2 linked regions of the Homo sapiens genome follow. The protein of the gene in region 2 interacts with the protein of the main gene of each other region in a pairwise test. Each region holds a gene or a part of one and is shown on either strand. Other genes may lie near its edges.

Region 1 (3,747 bases), on a different chromosome or scaffold from region 2:
TGAGCCAAGATCGCGCCACTGCGGTTCAGCCTGGGCAACAGAGCGAGACTCAAAAAAAATAGCACAATTCTAACAATATGCCACCATCACTGCTGATGAACTGGATAAGAGGGGACTAGTGTCACGTAAAATTTACCATCTAAAAAACAATTTTAGGCCAGGCGCAGTGGCTCACGCCTGTAATCTCAGCACTTTGGAGGCCGAGGCGGGAGGATCACCTGAGGTCAGGAGTTTGAGACCAGCCTGGCCAACATAGTGAAACCCTGTCTCTACTAAAAATACAAAAATTAGGCCAGGCGGGGTGCCTCACGCATGTAATCCCAGCACTTTGGGAGGCCAAGGCAGGTGGATCACCTGAGGTCAGGAGTTCGAGACCAGCCGGACGAACATGGTGAAACCCCATCTCTATTAAAAATACAAAATTAGCCGGGCATGGTGGTACATGCCTGTAACAGTCCGCTACTTGGGAGGCTGAGGCAGGAGAATCGCTTGAATCCAGGAGGCAGAGGTTGTAGTTAGCCGAGATCCTGCCATTGCACTCCAGCCTGGACAACAAGAGCAAAACTCTGTCTCAAAAAAAAAAACAAAACAAAAATTAGCCGGGCGTGGTGGCATGTGCCTGTAGTTCCAGCTACTCAGGAGGCAGAGGTGAGAGAAACGCTTGAACCTGGGAGGTAGAGGCTGCAGTGAACTGAGATCGCGCCACTGCACTCCAGCTTGGGCAACAGAGTGAGACTCCATCTAAAAATTTAAAAATAAAATAAAAAACATTTTTAAGTATATAATTTAATGGTATTAAATACTTTCATCATGTGCAATCATCAGTCACCATAACTCATCTTGTAAAACTGAAACTCTGTACCCATTAAAACATAACTCTCCATTCCCTCCACCCCCTAGCCCCTGGCAAGGACCACTGTCCTTTCTTTCTCTATAAATTTGAGTAAGTACTTTATCTAAGTGTAATCATACAGTATTTATCCTTTTGTGACTGGCTTATTTCACTTAGCATAATGTCCTCAAGGTTCATCTATGTTGTACCATGTCAGAATTTCTTTCCTTTCACCTGGGCAGCATACCAAGACCCCATCTCTAAAAGAAGTTTAAAAGAATGTTTCAAAGGCCAGGCCCAGTGACTCACGCCTGTAATCCCGTACTTTCTGGGGAGGATCACTTGACACCAGGAGTTCAAGACCAGCCTGGGCAACATGGCAAGACCTCTTCTCTACCAAAAAAAAAAATTAAGAAGACATTAGTTAGGCATTGTGACATGTGCCTGTAATCCCAGCTTCCCAGGAAGCTGAGGCAGGAGAATGGCTTGAGTCCAGTTCGAGGCTGAAGTGAGCCATAGTCATGCCACTGCACTCCATCCTGGGTAACAGAATGAGACCTTATCTCTTAAAAAAAGTATATCTTTCCTTTTTATGGCTGAATGTTATTCCATTGTGTATAAATGCCACATTTTGCTTATCCATTCATCTGTCAGTGGCACTTGAGTTGCTTCCGCACCTCAGCTGTTGTAAACAGTCCTGCTGTGTATATGGCCACATATAAAAGGTCTTTTAACTTTATTAAGCTTTGTTTTCTCATCTGTAAAATGGAAAAGGGCCTGCTCTGCATGGTTGCAGAGATGAGTGAGTGTTAGTGTGCTTGACACTCTTCCTCTGAGGAAATAGCACCCGTGGTTGCCAGTTTGTGGCTACTGGAGCCTCACATGGCATTTGGAGGTGTGGCTCACTACCCCACCCCCGCCTGGGGCTCCAGGCTAACCCAGGCAAAACTGTAGGTGCTCTCTGACCCTCAGTGTGCTCCCTCTCGGCCCACAGCCCCCGGTCCCTGAGAAGCGGCCCCCTGAAATACAGCATTTCCGCATGAGTGATGATGTCCACTCACTGGGAAAGGTGACCTCAGGTCAGTCCCATCCCCCACCCCCGGTGGCTTGATGTGGTCTGTTCTGAAGGTTTCGGTGATAGGCCCCACACCATTCTCTCTCTTCTTCCAGATCTGGCCAAAAGGAGGAAGCTGAACTCAGGAGGTGGCCTGGTAAGCAGCAGAGGCAGAGCCTCTACCCCTCGGGGGCTGCTCTGAGGGAGGGTCAGAGGTGGGGCTGCATCCCATCCTCAGTAGAAATGCGCAGGGTGTCAGTGGCCTCAATTTTTCTGATCTTTTTCTAGTCAGAGGAGTTAGGTTCTGCCCGGCGTTCAGGAGAAGTGACCCTGACGAAAGGGGACCCCGGGTCCCTGGAGGAGTGGGAGACGGTGGTGGGTGATGACTTCAGTCTCTACTATGATTCCTACTCTGTGGATGAGCGCGTGGACTCCGACAGCAAGGTGAGACAGAGCTGGTCTGCCCTCCCCGCCGGTGCTCCCCCAGGGCTGGGGCTCACTGTCCAGTCCTCCTTGTTCCCTGTTTTTCTGCTTTCTGTCCTTTTTATCTTCTGAATATCCACTAAGTCATTGCCCCATGCTGTCTATAACTCCTTTTTTTTGTGGGGGGAGACGGAATCTCATTCTGTCGCCCAGGCTGGAGCGCAATATCACGATCTGGGCTCACTGCAACCTCTGTCTCCAGGGTTAAAGCAATTCTCCTGCCTCAGCCTCCCGAGTAGCTGGGATTACAGGCACCTGCCACCACGCCCGGCTAATTTTTGTATTTTTAGTAGAGACGGGGTTTCCCTGTGTTGGCCAGGCTGGTCTCTAACTCCTGACCTTAGTTGATCCACCCACCTTGGCCTCCCAAAGTGCTGGGATTACAGCTGTGAGCCACCGCGCCCAGCTGTAACTCATTTTCAATGTGTATTCTGCCCGTTTCATCCACAAAGGTGGCCACCACCCTGCACATGGGATTTAGTATTCTTTTTTTTTTAATCAGCTAATGAAATGACCATTTAACAGACATGTACTGTTTAAAAAAAGAAAACAAAAAAAGAAATGACCAGAAAGCACTTTTTTAAAACATACGTTATGCTGTTTATATAAAATTCAAAAGCATTGCATTGTCATTTATTTGCTTATTTCGTTGCTCTTTGTCTGGTTTTATCTTATATGTTTGCCTACACAGTAGAATGTTTAGTCTCTCTGATTTTGCCTTTTATTTAACATTTTATCATGAAAACTTGCAAGCATAATCAAAAGAGTAGAATAGGGAGCCCCCATGTACCCAATACACAGCTCCAGCCATTATCAGTACACAGTCCATCTTGACCCATCTGTACATCTCCCAGCACACACACCTACTAGGTTATTTTAAAGCAAATCCCAGACCTCATATCATTTTACCTAAACATATATCCATATAGATTTGTAAATATAAGGCCTCTTTTTGTCGTTCAACATCATTACACTACTGTTTTCACACCTAAAAAAACTTACCGATTTCTTAATACCATCAAATATCCTGTCAGTCTTCACATTTCCTCAGCTCTCACAAATGGTTTTTGTCAAGATCCAAATGAGGCCCACACCTTGATTTGATTAACATTTGTCTTAGGTCAGCCAGGCACAGTGGCTCACGCCTGTAATCCCAATACTTTGGGAGGCCAAGGCGGGCAGATCACGTGAGGTTGGGAGTTCGAGACCAGCCTGATCAACATGGAGAAACCCCGTCTCTACTGAAAAAAATACAAAATTAGCTGGACGTAGTGGTACGTGCCTGTAATTCCAGCTACTCGGGAGGCTGAGGCAGGAGAATCGCTTGAACCTGGGAGGTGGAGGTTGCAGTGAGCCAAGATCGTACCATTGCACTCCA
Region 2 (3,747 bases):
CTGGGATTACAGGCATGCGCCACCACGCCCAGCTCATTTTGTATTTTTAGTAGAGACAGGGTTTCACCATGGTGGCCAGGCTAGTCTCGAACTCCCAACCTCAGGTGATCCGCCTGCCTCAACCTCCCAAAGTGCTGGGATTACAGGCATGAGCCACTGTGCCCGGTCTACTTCTGTGATTCCATTTAACAAAGGGAAGGTCCCTGGTTATCCTTCTTGTACAGATGAGGAAAACAGCTTGTGGAGGGGTTGGTGACTTGCCTCAGGGGATGGGGAGAACGGGGAGAGAGAGAGGCCAGGCACGGTGCCTCACGCCTGTAATCCCAACATTTTGGGAGGCCCAGGCAGGAGGATCACTTGAGGTCAGGAGTTTGAGACCAGCCTGGCCAACATGGCGAAAACCCGTCTCTACTAAAAAAAAGTACAAAAATGAGCTGGGCGTGGTGGCGGGTGCCTGTAATCCCAGCTATTCAGAAGGCTGAGGCAGGAGAATCACTGGAACCCGGGAGGCAGAGCTTGCAGTGAGCCGAGATTGCGCCACTGCACTCCTGCCTGGGTGACAGAGTGAGATTCCTTCTCAAAAAAAAAAAAGGCCAGGTGCGACAGCTCACATCTGTAATCCCAGCACTTTGGAAGGCTGAGGCGGGCAGATCATGAAGTCAGAAGTTTGAGACCAGCCTGGCTGACATAGTGAAACCCAGTCTCTACTAAATATACAAAAATTAGGCTGGGTGTGGTGGCTCATGCTTGTAATCCTAGCACTTTGGGAGGCCGAGGCAGGTGGATCACCTGAGGTCAGGAGTTCAAGGCCAGCCTGGTCGACATGGTGAAACCCTGTCTCTACTAAAAACACAAAAATTAGCCGGGCATGGTGGTGCGCGCCTGTAATCCTGGCTACCCGGGAGGCTGAGGAAGGAGAATCGCTTGAACCCTGGAGGTGGAAGTTGCAATGAGCCAAGATCGTGCCACTGCACTCCAGCCTGCGTGTTGGGAGTGAGACTCCATCTCAGCATAAAAAACAAAAAATACAAATACAAAAATTAGCCAGGTGTAGTGGCATGTGCCCATAGTCTCAGCTACCTGAAAGGCTGAGGCAAGAGAATCTTTTGAACTCAGGAGGCAGAGGTTGCAGTGAGCCGAGACCACGCCATTGCACTCCAGCCTGGGTGACAGAGTGAGACTCCATCTCAAAAAATAAAAATAAAAAAAAAAAAAAACAAGGAGAGAGAGAATATGAGGAGGGGTAGGGATGCTGAGGCTCCTACTGGCCTCCCGCTCAGCTCACCCTCCCCTTCCTCGCCCAGCTGCGGTGTGATCACGCAGGTAGTAGGCAGTGGAGCTCTCTGGGCCAGCAGCCTGGTCAGAACCCAAAGGTTCCTGCCCACAACGAGCCACACTCCAGGATAGCCCTGGTGTCCCTTTATTCCCTGGAGAATTTGGGACCCCATATTTAGAAGAATGTGTTGCTTGGTAGCTCCCAGAGAAAGGGGGTCTGAAGCCTGGCCTTTTTCTTCCCCAGATGAAGTGGTTTTAAAGTTTGATCGGAACCGTGTGCGTATCCGGAACGTGGCCTACGACACGCTCCCCATTGTGGTCCATGGAAACGGTCCCACTAAGGTGCCACCAGTGGTCTCAACCCCCGCCCCGCCCTGCCCCAACCCCCAGGCACCTCCAACCCTTCTGAGAAGCTGGCCCTTCCCAGCCCCCATATCAGAGGTGCCTGACCCCCACCTCCACCCCTGGAGGCCTCAGCCACTCAGCCTCAGTCTGTCCCCAACAGCTGCAGCTCAACTACCTGGGAAACTACGTCCCCAATGGCTGGACTCCTGAGGGAGGCTGTGGCTTCTGCAACCAGGACCGGAGGACACTCCCGGGGGGGCAGGTGAGGTGGGGGTGCCAGGGAGGGGCACGAGAGGGCAGCGTGCTGAGCAGGAGGTACAAGGACAGCGGACTGGGGGGCGGTGGGGGCATCGCTCCTGGGTCCCTGCACCTGTCAGGGTGGAGGTTGGGTGGGGGCAGCAGGGAAGTCCGGGCTTCTCTCTGAGTCCCTGCGTGTTGCATCTTCCAGCCTCCCCCCCGGGTGTTTCTGGCCGTGTTTGTGGAACAGCCTACTCCGTTTCTGCCCCGCTTCCTGCAGCGGCTGCTACTCCTGGACTATCCCCCCGACAGGGTCACCCTTTTCCTGCACAACAACGTGAGACTCCCCTGTTGGAGCCTCTCCTGAGGGACCCTTTCCCTGCCCTGATCAGAACTCTCGTGCCCCCACCCCCATCTCCTTCCTGCACCCCCATCCCTCAGGTGCCGCCTCCCTGCCCTCTGAGCCCATCCCCCTATGTCTTCCCCTCCCAGGAGGTCTTCCATGAACCCCACATCGCTGACTCCTGGCCGCAGCTCCAGGACCACTTCTCAGCTGTGAAGCTCGTGGGGCCGGAGGAGGCTCTGAGCCCAGGCGAGGCCAGGGACATGGCCATGTGAGCGGGTGCTTGCGGGGAGGAGAGGGTGGGATGAGGCTGTAGGGTCAGGGGTGCTGCCACCTGCTGCCTGGCCCTTGCCTCACCTGTCACCCATCCAGCCCCTCCTGGGCCTCCCCATTCGCATCCTTGCAGCCCCCATGCTGTCACTCCTGCCCTTGCCAGCTCACCCAGACAGCAGAGAGCCTGGGGAAGGAAGGATAGACACTGCCTCCCTCCTCTTCTCCTGGGGGCATGGGCCAGTTACCCCATCCACACCGCCTCCCCACCTGCCGCCGTCTCAGCTCGCCTCTCACCTCCAGGGACCTGTGTCGGCAGGACCCCGAGTGTGAGTTCTACTTCAGCCTGGACGCCGACGCTGTCCTCACCAACCTGCAGACCCTGCGTATCCTCATTGAGGAGAACAGGTGGCTTACCCCCTCTCCCCGCAGCCGGAGGGCACCCCAACAGGCCCCGGGAACCCCACTCCTGCCCTGGGCACCGGGCTCCCCAGGCCTGCTCCCGTCTGCCCAGCCCTCACCCCCACCTGTCCGCAGGAAGGTGATCGCCCCCATGCTGTCCCGCCACGGCAAGCTGTGGTCCAACTTCTGGGGCGCCCTGAGCCCCGATGAGTACTACGCCCGCTCCGAGGACTACGTGGAGCTGGTGCAGCGGAAGCGAGTGTGAGTCCCGCCAGCCTGCAGCCCCCCGCCTCCTCCGACCCGGGGCCCAGGTAGACCCAAGCCCCCTACTCTCAGGGGTTTGGAGTGGTCACCAGTCAGAGGTGCCATGAGGCTGGCTGCAGTGGCTCACACTTTTGATGCCACCACTTTGGGAGGCTGAGGTAGGAGGACTGCTTGAGCCTGGGAGTTTAAGATCAGCCTGAGCAACGTAGCAAGAGCCTATCTCTACAAAAAACTTAAAATATTAGCTGGGCACGGTGGTGCGTGCCTGTGGTCCCAGCTACTACGGAGGCTGAGGTGGGAGAATCACTTGAACTTGGGAGGTTGAGGCTGCAGTGAGCCATGTTTCCACCACTGCACTCCAGCCTGGAAACAGAGGGAGACCCTTTCTCAAGAAAATAAAAAACAAGGGCCGGCCGCGGTGGCTGACGCCTGTAATCCCAGCACTTTGGAAGGCAGAGGCAGGTGGATTACTCGAGGTCAGGAGTTCGAGACCAGCCTGGCCAACATGGTGAAACCCCATCTCTACCAAAAATACAAAAATCAGCCGGGCATGGTGGCTGGCACCTCTAATCCCAGCTATTTGGGAGGCTAAGGTGGGAGAATTGCTTGAA

What was found. The genes of interacting proteins can lie anywhere in the genome.
Region 1: the proteins of PLOD3 (region 2) and EHMT2 interact in binary tests that used the Homo sapiens proteins (3 or more experiments, as listed by UniProt).

The regions. Positions count from the first base shown.
Region 1 is NC_000006.12:31,890,990-31,894,736, reverse strand, and holds part of EHMT2 (histone-lysine N-methyltransferase EHMT2), read left to right. Parts: intron 1-1,074; exon of another isoform or gene 1,075-1,375; intron 1,376-1,826; coding exon 1,827-1,911; intron 1,912-2,002; coding exon 2,003-2,043; intron 2,044-2,174; coding exon 2,175-2,330; intron 2,331-3,747. UniProt on the Homo sapiens protein: Histone methyltransferase that specifically mono- and dimethylates 'Lys-9' of histone H3 (H3K9me1 and H3K9me2, respectively) in euchromatin.
Region 2 is NC_000007.14:101,210,977-101,214,723, reverse strand, and holds part of PLOD3 (multifunctional procollagen lysine hydroxylase and glycosyltransferase LH3 precursor), read left to right. Parts: intron 1-1,519; coding exon 1,520-1,617; intron 1,618-1,780; coding exon 1,781-1,882; intron 1,883-2,068; coding exon 2,069-2,194; intron 2,195-2,349; coding exon 2,350-2,471; intron 2,472-2,773; coding exon 2,774-2,878; intron 2,879-3,007; coding exon 3,008-3,133; intron 3,134-3,747. UniProt on the Homo sapiens protein: Multifunctional enzyme that catalyzes a series of essential post-translational modifications on Lys residues in procollagen. Plays a redundant role in catalyzing the formation of hydroxylysine residues in -Xaa-Lys-Gly- sequences in collagens.